Homo sapiens: one gene and its partners. The protein of the gene in region 3 purifies or fractionates together with the protein of the main gene of each other region. This does not show direct contact. Each region holds a gene or a part of one and is shown on either strand. Other genes may lie near its edges.

Evidence for each region.
Region 1: the proteins of ST8SIA1 (region 3) and IPO13 purify together in Homo sapiens (affinity purification with mass spectrometry; 3 studies listed by BioGRID and IntAct, with this or other methods). This does not show direct contact.
Region 2: the proteins of ST8SIA1 (region 3) and RUFY1 purify together in Homo sapiens (affinity purification with mass spectrometry; 2 studies listed by BioGRID and IntAct, with this or other methods). This does not show direct contact.

The regions. Positions count from the first base shown.
Region 1 is NC_000001.11:43,953,342-43,956,988, reverse strand, and holds part of IPO13 (importin-13), read right to left. Parts: intron 3,527-3,647; exon of another isoform or gene 3,506-3,526; intron 670-3,505; coding exon 529-669; intron 430-528; coding exon 288-429; intron 180-287; coding exon 13-179; intron 1-12. UniProt on the Homo sapiens protein: Functions in nuclear protein import as nuclear transport receptor. Serves as receptor for nuclear localization signals (NLS) in cargo substrates.
Region 2 is NC_000005.10:179,598,927-179,602,573, forward strand, and holds part of RUFY1 (RUN and FYVE domain-containing protein 1), read left to right. Parts: intron 1-341; exon of another isoform or gene 342-463; intron 464-558; exon of another isoform or gene 559-709; intron 710-1,146; exon of another isoform or gene 1,147-1,172; intron 1,173-2,965; coding exon 2,966-3,060; intron 3,061-3,137; exon of another isoform or gene 3,138-3,340; intron 3,341-3,450; exon of another isoform or gene 3,451-3,647. UniProt on the Homo sapiens protein: Activating adapter involved in cargo sorting from early/recycling endosomes. Regulates retrieval of proteins from endosomes to the trans-Golgi network through interaction with the dynein-dynactin complex.
Region 3 is NC_000012.12:22,286,195-22,289,841, reverse strand, and holds part of ST8SIA1 (alpha-N-acetylneuraminide alpha-2,8-sialyltransferase), read left to right. Parts: intron 1-2,548; coding exon 2,549-2,693; intron 2,694-3,647. UniProt on the Homo sapiens protein: Catalyzes the addition of sialic acid in alpha 2,8-linkage to the sialic acid moiety of the ganglioside GM3 to form ganglioside GD3; gangliosides are a subfamily of complex glycosphingolipds that contain one or more residues of sialic acid.

The DNA of each region.
Region 1 (3,647 bases), on a different chromosome or scaffold from region 3:
TGCTACCATCACCTGTAAATTCGGAACTGCTCCTTCTCGTCTGAGGACCAGAATCCATATTCCTCATCAGAAGGGAACTGGGCCTTGTGCAGAAGCACATCCACCAGCTGGAAGTAGACTGGCCGGTACACCTGCTGGTATACAGCCTGCTTCTCTGCCTCAAAGGATAGAATATCATCCTGAGAGAGCCAGGGAAGAGAATTAGCCACCTCACCAGCAGTCATAGAAGCCCATGATCCACCTTCTTCCACCACAGCCCAGTCCTACTGGAGGTCACACAGACACACCTGCAGTGTGTACCAGAAGGTGAGGGTTAGGGAGCTGGTGGTCTCATTGACAGGATAGTGGCCAGGGATGCCTGTGCAGAACATAATCATGTTGACGAGTGCCAGGAAACTCTGCCAGTGCTCTACTTGGTCCAGCAAGGCCCTGGGGAGAGAGTCAGGTCATTCTACCTTTCCAGGGACTTCCAGAACCCCATTTCTTAGAGGGCCCTACTATCCCACCCCAAGCTGCTCCACCCTTTACCGGGAGTGGTTCTCGCCCAGGGCCACAGCGATGCGACAGATGCCATGGGAGGTCTCCATGTCCCCATTCTGCACTGCCTGCCGCAGTTGTTCCTGCAGACCCAGCACCAGCGGGATGAGTTTCAGGAGTGTGTTCACGTACCTAGAGGCATGAGGTGAGAAAATCCATCAGAGCTCTCTGCTCAACCCCACACTGGCTTTAAGAGAAAGGCATAATCTCCTTGTCTTCCATCAAAGCTCCCCTTCCCTTATCAAATCCTAAGCAAAAAAAGGGTCAGGGTCTACATGGCAGATTTGATGTTCCCAATGTTGGGAAGAACCTTAGATCAGGGACCCCCAGAAGAACTCTGAGAAGGACGTATGAGAAGGTCAGCATTATGGGTTGAATTGTGTTCTCCAGTTGGACTGAGAGCTGATTCCGGAATGGGTTAAGATTTTTTTTTTTTTTTTTTTTTTGAGATGGGGTTTTGCTGTGTTACCCAGGCTGGTCTCGAACTCCTGAGCTCAAGAGACTCAGCCTCCTGCTCAGCCTCCAGAGTAGCTGGGATTACAGGTGGAGCCACCACATCCAGCTAGGTTACAACTTTTGGGGAGATTGAGATGAAGTGAATATATTTTGCATGTGGGGATAACATGAAGTTTGGGGCACCAGAGGGCAGACTGTCATGGGTCAAATTAAGTCCCCACAAAAAGATACATTTTTTGATAAATCTTAATCCCCAGTACCTCAAAATGTGATCTTATTTGGAAATAAGATAATTGCAGATGAGGTTATACTGGAGTAGGATGGACCTGAACTCCAATATGACTGGTGTCCTTATAAGAAGATATCTATGTGAAGACAGAGACATACAGGGAGAATGCCACGTGAGGATGAAAGTAGAGAGTGGAGTGATCCAGCTGGAAGCCAGGGAACACTGAAGACCGCCAGCAAACCACAGAGCTAGGAAGAGGCAAGGACGGAGTCTCCTACAGGTTTCAGAGGGAGCACAGCCTTGCCAACACCTTGATTTCAGACTTCTATCCTTCACAATTGTGAGACAGTTAATTTCTGTTTGGCTTTAAAGCCACCTAGTTTGTGGTACTATGTTATGGTAGCCCTAGGAAACTAATACAGTCTGTCAGGGGTGATTGAACAAGAGTGGGATACAGAAGAGTAAACACAGGCTCATAAGCCCTGATTTAAAAAAAAAAAAAAGACTTTGGAAGGCAGCAACAGCTCATGAGAGCATCAATCCCTGCCATCCGCTCCACCCTCTACCACCAAATCCCAACTCTTGAGGAGTGTGGTGGCAGCAGGGAGGAAGAGAAGTAGACAATGAACTCAGAGAGAGCTAAGAGGCAAAACAGACAGGACTTGATGACTGACTGGATATGAGGAAGGAGAAGAATAAAGACACCTCTCAGGTCACTGGCTAAACAACTAAGTAGACGGTGGAGCTATTTACTGAGACCTGTGGGGTGAGTAGCGGGGAACAGTAACACCTTTAATGGGAGGTGGAAGGTGATAAGCTCAGTCTTAGACAAGTTGATTCAGAGACACCTGATAGGTTATGCAGGCAGAAGCATCTAGAAAGAGTTGGATATAAAAGCCTGAAGCCCAGCATAGAGGTTAGAGCAAAAGCCATAGATTTGAGAGTCATCAGCTAACAGCTGGTAATTGAAGTTATGGGAATAGATGAGAATTGCCCAAGGAGAAAGTGTTGAATGAGAAAAAAATAAGAGGGTCCAGATCACAGCCCTGAAACACAATGATCTCTAAAGGAGAAGGACAGACAGCCCAGTATACAAAGGGGACTGAGAGAAGCCTGGCTCAGCCCACTGGATCCCTCTCCAGCACCTTGGTCTGTGGAGATGAGACTAAGCAGAGGAAGCCACACTCTAATAGCGGGGATCAGATGCTTGGGACCCCTCTGTTGTCAATCATAGTGTCACCATAGCAATCTATGTTAGGGAGTTGGGGACTGAGGATCCCAGAGGGAGTTCTATCTGGACTTGCCCCAAGCAGGTTGCTAGGCAGTAGCCTCATATCCTTGGTGGGAGGATGAGAAGGACAAAAAGAGGCAACCAGCCTAGGGACATCGGCCTCCTTCTCCACATCCCCATTCTGGTAGGAAAAGTCACCCATGCCAGGATATCCCCAGCCCAGAGACAGCCCCAGGGGGTGCTGCCTGGAGACAGCCGGGATAGCTTCAGTCTCCTGACCCTGACACGGGCTGCACCACCAGACAATGGGCATTTTCAGGCCAGACTCTGGCACAAAGAGAAGGGGCAGGGCCAAGGCTATGGCCCACAAGCTCCTCAGCAGCTGAGATGGGTGCAGGAGGTAGCGCTCTACTCCCATAGCTCCCCACTGTATTCTAAGACTCCTTCCTCCACCTGCCAAAGTTCATGCAGATGGCAGGGTACTCGGCAAATGTTCTTCATTTGTCTCATCTGAGCCTCAAAATAGGACAAATCAAGGATAATACAGCCTCAAAGAGCTCAGAGTATCATATCACTCAAGGTCATACAACAACTTAGAAGCAGAATCCAGGTTGAAACTGCCCCTTAAACTGCTACAGGTCTGCTTTTCTTTCAGGGCCCAACCAGAATTTCCCCAAAGGATTTATGTACGTCTCAGCCCATATCTCCAGTCCTAACTGATGGGAGCCCCCAAGAGCCTGCCTAATTCACTTTCCCTCCATCCCCAACTCCCAAGGACAAGCTTTTCCAGCATTAAAAACATAGTTCAGGAAAAAAAAATACATTTCAAAGGAGAGAGCCAGGAAGCAGCAGCAGCTGTGGAGGGGCAGGAAAAGGGTGACTTGAGTGCAAGCTCAGCCAAGGGGAGGGCCAATGTCAGGACACCTGGGGAAGGCGTGCCTGGATGACCCAGGAGTCAAAGTCACTGAAGGTGACTTTCACAAGCCAAAGCTGGGAAATTAGACTGGGGAGAGCAAGGGCCAGGCTCGGATTCTGGGCTGGATGCAGCTCACCCATGGGAAGAAGTTCTTGCATAAATTTCCTACCACCTGAGCACCTGTGTCTGCGACCTGTGAGTGGACAGAAGAACAAGTCTGAGGTCCCAGAGGTTTCTAGGTTTGGGGGAAGGAGACAGGGAGGATGTCTTTATGACCA
Region 2 (3,647 bases), on a different chromosome or scaffold from region 3:
CGGCTCCAGGGTGTGGGGAGGCTGTTAGGGAGCTCCTGTTTTAGGAGCATAAGACAAAGACAAATCATAAACCACTAAGCCTGCTGGCAGCTCAGATAGAGGCAAGTGCCATGAAGAGAATAAAGCAGAACAGTGTCCTCACCCGTGTGCAAGGGGCCTGGGGAGGGAGCGACCGGTGAGCAGAGGCTCCAGTGAGTTATGCCCTGCAAAGCACCTCTTGGGTGGAGACTGCAGGAGCAGACAGCAGTGTGAGGAGCAAAGAGGCGGCCTCAGGCGGCAGGCAGGAGGAAGCCCTTCATGGGCCCTGGGAGCCAGGGGAAGGAACGTGGGTTTTATTTTACCAGAGTGGGCAGCTGGTGGAGGGACAGGATCCGTTCTGTTTGCGGATGGTCATTGGCTCCTGTGTGGAGAGTGGGTGGTAGGCTCGCAGGAGAGGAAGCTGGGAGGAACCAGTAAACATCTCCTACCACATGCCAGCCTCACCTCAGCCACTGTGCCCAGGGTCGGGTCATCCCTGGGAAGCAGACCGACCCCAGCCCTCCACTTCCCCTACATCACCTCAGTTCCATGGAGGACCCTCTCACTTGGAGGCATGGCCTGGATGCTGTGGGCTTCAGAGGGCGAGAGAAGTGGGGTCCAGCAGGCCTTCACTGTCTGGCTGTGGAACTGGACCTCCCAGGAAACTCCGAGGCCGTGTGGAACATTTGCCCTAATGTAAAATCATCGGCTGTTTTCCCAGAGGGGAGGAGGCTCTGCGATCCTGGATGGAGCTGACTGCAGCCTGGGGCGCTCTGGGGGGCTCCTCCCACGTGGGGATGGCGTGCCCTCTTCTCAGGCCCCTGCGCTGCCGAGCGCTGCAGGAAAACTGAGCCCAAAGCAGACCTCCCCTCGGCACCTGCCCCGGAGGGGCCTTCAGGGCCAGGGTGGCTTCTGGACCTGGATTTTGTTGTGTTGAACGTGGTAATGGACACACTGCACGATTCGAGCGAGTCAGGAAAGGCCCTTTTGATTTCCATTGGAAAGTGCCTGGAGTTGTTGGGGAAGGGAGAGCTTCCTCAAGAGCCAGATCAGGCTTGGAGAGTGGAAGGGAGGAAGTGGAGGGCAGAAGAGGACTTTCAGAAAGTCCCGCCTCATCACGGGGCATACCTCCTTTATTCTGCTTCAGAATGCTTCTGTCAAAAGATTCGAATTACACAATTACAGCCCGCCCCAACAATAGGAACAAAACAATGTCTAATAACCCCAGTTAAGCCACAGCTTTGTGCTTTGCAAGCCTGTGCATGGAAGCAGAAGCTACGGCACAGGGTGTGCAGAGAGCCACCCCGCCACTCGGGCCCGAGCTCCACCGCTGCTCCCAGTGGTCCCAGAAACCCCAGTTACTTTCTGGGTCTCCATCCTGGCCTTAACAGACTGGCTCAAGGTGCACTGGCCCCAGGTGTCAGTGCCGTTGCCCCCTGGGGAACTCCCTCCGTGCAGGGCTCCTCACATGGTCTAGCCAGCCTCCAAGTGGTCTAGCCATGAAATGAGGTCCCAGGTCACCCCCTTCATCATCCTTGACCAGTGCTTTCCAAAAAAGCAGCTTTTTCAGAATTGAACAGGAAACCACCTTTCAAACTAGTCTTTGCTGATGCAAGGTTCGTGTGATTTTGTGTACAGTTCTTCTATAGATTTTTTGAGATAGCAATCTGTTTTGTAAAATGTTTATCTTTTAAAAAGAAGCTCAAATAGGCAAAGCCTCATTTGTCCTATGATGGTAACTTTTTTTTTTTTTTTTTTTTTTTTTTTTTTGAGACGGAGTCTTGCTCTGTTGCCCAGGCTGGAGTGCAGTGGTGTGATCTCGGCTCACTGCAACCTCCGCCTCCCCAGTTCAAGCGATTCTCCTGCCTCAGCCTCCCGAGTAGTTGGGATTGCAGGCATGTGCCACCATGCCCTGCTAATTTTTGTATTTTTAACTAAAGGAGGGGTTTTGCCATGTTGGCCAGGCTGGTCTTGAATGCCTGACCTCAGGTGATCCGCCCACCTCAGCCTCCCAGTGCTGGGATTACAGGTGTGAGCCACTGCGCCCAGCTGAGGGTAACTATTTTTAATGTGGCTGATGAATGTAACTATCCTGTCCCATGTCTCTGTCCCCAGCTGCAGAGCCCTCGTCGAGTGCTTGCCTTTTAGCTGCCCAGTGTCAAGAGTAAGCTAGCAAGAAATAATCTTGAATGACATTAATACAGGACTGCATTTTGCTCTTTTTTTTGGTTTTGTTTTGTTTGAGATGGAGTCTTGCTCTGTCGCCCAGGCTGGAGTACAGTAGCACCATCTCGGCTCACTGCAACCTCCGCCTCCCGGGTTCAAGCAGTTCTCTTGCCTCAGCCTCCCAAGTAGCTGGGATTACAGGTGCCTGCCACCACACCCAGCTAATTTCTGTATTTTTAGTGGAGACAGGGTTGCACCATGTTGGCCGGGTTGGCCTCAAACTCCTGACCTCAGGTGATCCACCTGTCTTGGCCTCCCAAAGTGCTGGAAGTATAGGCATAAGCCACTGTGCCTGGCCACCTTTTGCTCTTGAAAAACATTCTGATCTGCTTGTTGCTCTGGTTGCTGAATCTTTTTTTTTTTTTTAAAGGCCAGTGCAGTGGCTCACGCCTGTAATCCCAGCACTTTGGGAGGCCGAGGCGGGCAGATCACGAGGTCAGGAGTTTGAGACCATCCTGGCCAACATGGTGAAACCCCGTCTCTACTGAAAATACAAAAATTAGCAGGGCATGGTGGCGGGCACCTGTAGTCCCAGCTACTTGGGAGGCTGAGGCAGGAGAATCGCTTGAACCCAGGAGGCGGAGGTTGCAGTGAGCCAAGATCGTGCCACTGCACTCCAGCCTGGCAACAGAGCAAGACCCTGTCTCAAAAAAAAAAAAAAAAAAAAAAAAAAGGACCGTGTAATCCTCTGTCCAGCATCTGGTTGGTTTGTTCATTTTAGGAGTTGCGGGAGCTTCAGGACGAGAAGGCAGAGCTGCAGAAGATCTGCGAGGAGCAGGAACAAGCCCTCCAGGAAATGGGCCTGCACCTCAGCCAGTAAGAACCCCACTCCCCTTGTCTGCCACTGCAGGCACACCAGGCTACCCACCACATCCCTCAGGCCCCAAACCTACCTCCTTTTGGCGAACGGAGGGTGGGCCATTTAGGAGCTCAGTCCGCCGTTCACGGATGAGCTCTCAGGAAGCCCGGCCTCAGAGGGGCCCAGCACTGATCTCTGCTACCCACATGGGGTGTCAGCGAGCTCTTAGTTAATTCAGGAAGCACGTTCATTCCTAGTGACCAGGACACTCCTATTCCTTAGCTTCATATCCAGGGCCTGAGGGAACAGATGGGCAATGAGAGGATCGCTTGGTCAGCCTACAGTCAGGCCAGAGGGAGCAGGGCTGGTTTGGGAACGGAAGCCTGGCACAGTAGAGGTGCACTCACCCGCCTTGCACAGCACAGCCCCCTTCCTTTCGGGGAACTGGCCACTGCATCCGCCAGAGTCTGTCTGTCTCTGCTGCAGGTGCTGATGGGGTGCAGACCCTGGTAGTTCTGCTCCCCTCTGACTTGACAGCTCTCCTCCTTGGTGTCCCAGTCTAGATAGGTTGCTGTGGACGCCTGGGCCTTGGGGTGGATCACAC
Region 3 (3,647 bases):
GGAAACAAATATGAAAGCGATTTGCAAGTTGCCAGGTACTAGGCAACGTAAGGTGCTATATGGCTGTGACAAATTTTCCTTCTGAACCTCCTGTAGCACTTTGTACAGAATGGCAAGTTCAGCTTGGTTGGAGGCCAGAGCCATGGTCTTGTTGGAAATAAGTACCTGATGTGAGGTACAAAGACCTGGAAGCAAAGCCCTGCCCCACCGTTTCCCTAGTTACGTGACCTGAGATAAATTACTTGAGAAAAGAATATTAAAGTCATCCAGCTCATGGGTTACTGTGAGAATTCAGTAGAAAAATACCTATGAAGGCACCTGGTGTACTGCGGCAGTTGGCCAGTGTTTACACAGCATTTTTTTTAGGGCAGAGAAAGATACAAATGAATCAAAATGGTTCTGAGCAGGTAGCTCGCAAAGAGGAGAAAGCCTGGACTCTGCGGACCTGGCTTCCTGTTCTGCCCTGTGTGGCCTGAGCAAGTCCTGGAACCGCTCTAAGCCTGTTTCCTCAGATGAGAATTGGGAGGAATCATGATGATAATAATAATAATAACCATACCCTTAATTATCTCTTAGGGTTGCTCTGAGGACTAAAAAATATAAGATATCAGCAGACATGGGATAGGAACTAAAAATTTAGCCTATCCTCCCCCCAGATTTAGCATCGTGCTGGTGATAATGCTCCTTATTTTTAAAGATAGTCTTAAACCATGTCCAGGTGTTTTCTGTTGACTCAATAAGAGCCTAGGATGCACTTCTGACAAAATGTTTGCAGTCCAGTATAAAACTTTACCTTAGCCAGGCATGGTGGCACATGCCTGTTATCCCAACCATTTGAGAGGCTGAGGCAGGAGGATCGCTTGAGCCCAGGAGTTTGAGGTTGCAGTGACTGCATTCCAGCCTGGGCAATAGAGTGAGACCCTGTTTCAAAAAACAAGGACAACAACAACAAACAACAAAGAAAACCTTTACCATCTCTGGAAGCCACCTTTTGGGTGGCAAAACACCAATAAAAATGAATGAGGGTGGAGAAGAAGAGGAAAGAGAAGCAGCTAATGAGAAACGGAGGGCCAGCGTAGGAGCAAGAAGAGACACTCGGTCTACCAAGTTTGATAAGATGAAAGCTTTCTTCCCGAGCTCTTCTCCCCTTGTCTGCCTTGAGCCCTTCTCTTCTGTCCTTCTTTCCATTGAAACCTTCACGAAGGCAAAGCCAACGAAGATCTCAGAGAGTGCAAGGGGAGGCACAGTGTGGCAGGAAGAGCACCTCCCCCGCAGGCTGAGGAAGCTTGCCCACACCGCGGGGCTCCTGCAGCTGCAGCCTTACTGACTAGGCTGATTCCTGGCAACAATGAGGCTGGGACGGTGTGACAATAAGAAGGAGAACACCTACCACGTATTGAACTTTCAGTGTTTGCTCTACCAGTACGTTCTCAGTGAACTCTCAACGAAAGTCTCATAGGGCAGTTCTGCAGCCCCTTCTCTTTGCCCAGTCATGGAGTTAGTAAGCTGCAGAGGCAGGACTTGAAGTCAAGTCTCCCACTCCACCGTCCCCTTTCAGCTAAAGATGTCTGAGCAAGCGTTTCTGGGTGAGGTCATTCAGAAGTGGTTTATGCCAGCAATTTGTTTTATTCATCTTCCTAGAGGAGGAAGTGGTGAATAAGCTCTTTTACTCATGAGTAAGTGGAATTTATTTCTGACAGATTGTTAATTGGAGGGTCGTATAAAGATTTCCCCATAGAACAAACATGGCTTAGACTTGAGGGGCTAGCTGGGGAGTAGCCTGCAAGTCAGCCCAGAAGGGTGAGGTTACCCCAGTGATGCTGGTGCTTCAGACACTGAGGGAGCTGGGAGAAACTTCTGTCAAAGTCATAGAGCTCATCACGGTGTCAAACACTTCTGAGAGGCCAAAGTGAGAACCAAAAAGGCCCATGAGGTTTAGCAGTGAGAAGGTAGGTTGCTCTCCAGTGTCTGAGATCACATCATTCATTTCATTCTATTTCTACTCAAAAGATTTTCAAGGGATTGTTCTCTATCTTGTCACCAGTTTTGGGGAGTGCACTCTCTTTAGGGTCACTCTGTGTATTCCCTTGCCATACAGCTTGCTGGAAGTCTCTTTTCACTGAATTTAACCACCTGATTGTTAATGAAGATAGAGATGCACCTCTGCTGTAGCTGAATAGCTCAACAGTCTCCAAAGTTAGCTATCCAAGTCTTTTCTGGACCTGGATGTTTAAATCAATCAGTACATCTGCAACTGTAATGGTTATTTTTATCTTTTGACATATCTCACCTGAATCTGAACACAATCTAATGAATCTGATGTATTTTTCTTAAACTTTTTTTTTTTTTTTTTGCTGTGAAATAGTCTAGTCACGCATTTTGGTGGCTAGAAGAGTGAATTAATAGTAGTCTAATCACCCTGGAGATGCTATGCTTCTGTGAGCTGGCACTGAGGTAAGGTGGCACATCTCTGTGGGAATGACAAGTGAATGAATCTGCTCCTCATTTAACCTGCTGTTCTTTTCTCTCTCTCTGTTTTCTCTCCTAGGAAACAAATGGAAGACTGCTGCGACCCTGCCCATCTCTTTGCTATGACTAAAATGAATTCCCCTATGGGGAAGAGCATGTGGTATGACGGGGAGTTTTTATACTCATTCACCATTGACAATTCAACTTACTCTCTCTTCCCACAGGTTAGTATAGAGTTGGTTGCCTTCAGTATGGTTTCTTAAATTTCTTGCTGTCATAGAAAAGGGATAATTGAGTTTGCCTTACTCATCAGATTGACTTTTTGTTTTCTTTCTTCTCTCTTTAAATGTTTTTCTTTATATCTGTCATCTGTGTGTGTGAATAAATCACAGTGTTTTGATGCAAGGGTGGAAGCAGGATGTTACAGAGTTACAGTTTTCCTAGCCTTTCTGATTTGAGTCCTATGAGACTGAAGGAAGCAAGAAATGAATGATCAGGGACTTGTGGAATTCTAGTGTTCTGAGGTTGGCTGTGGAATGACCATGAGGATTTGTGTGATACTGGAATGTTTTCTTAGGACTGATGTTGCTCAGGGAGTGGGGACCATATGGTGAGAAGTTTGCTTCTTAGAGCTCTTGAATGTTAACCCTGTGGTTAGATTACCACTGTGAAATGGAGGAGTGGTGGATATGGAGAGGAATAATTCAACTTGACCACTTTTGAAGTGGTCTAAATCAAGCTTTGCTTACTTAATATTTATTCTTGGTTTTCTGGGCATTGAAATAAAATGTTTTTCTAATATACATGTAGGCAGCAAGAGGGGGGAAAAGGGAAATTTTATTTTAGGGAACCCTAGTTTTGGGGAGGGGAGATCTTAGGCAAAATTGCAATTAGGGAAAAATTCAGAAATGAATCATGGCCTCCCCAAGACATCTTTTAGCCACCCTTGGTTTGCTCAGATGATTGTACAGAAAGAGAATTTTTAAGCCTTAGAAAGTGGGACTGAATCTTTCATGTGTCTCTGTTAATAGCCCATGAGACTTTAAAGGAGGAATCCCACAAAGCTGAGGCACAGGTTCTACCAGATCCAAAGTCACACTCTCTATAAAACAGCCATGCTGACTAGCTCATCCTTAGATATTTTAGTCTAGTTTAATGGTCTTAAAATGCAGTGATAA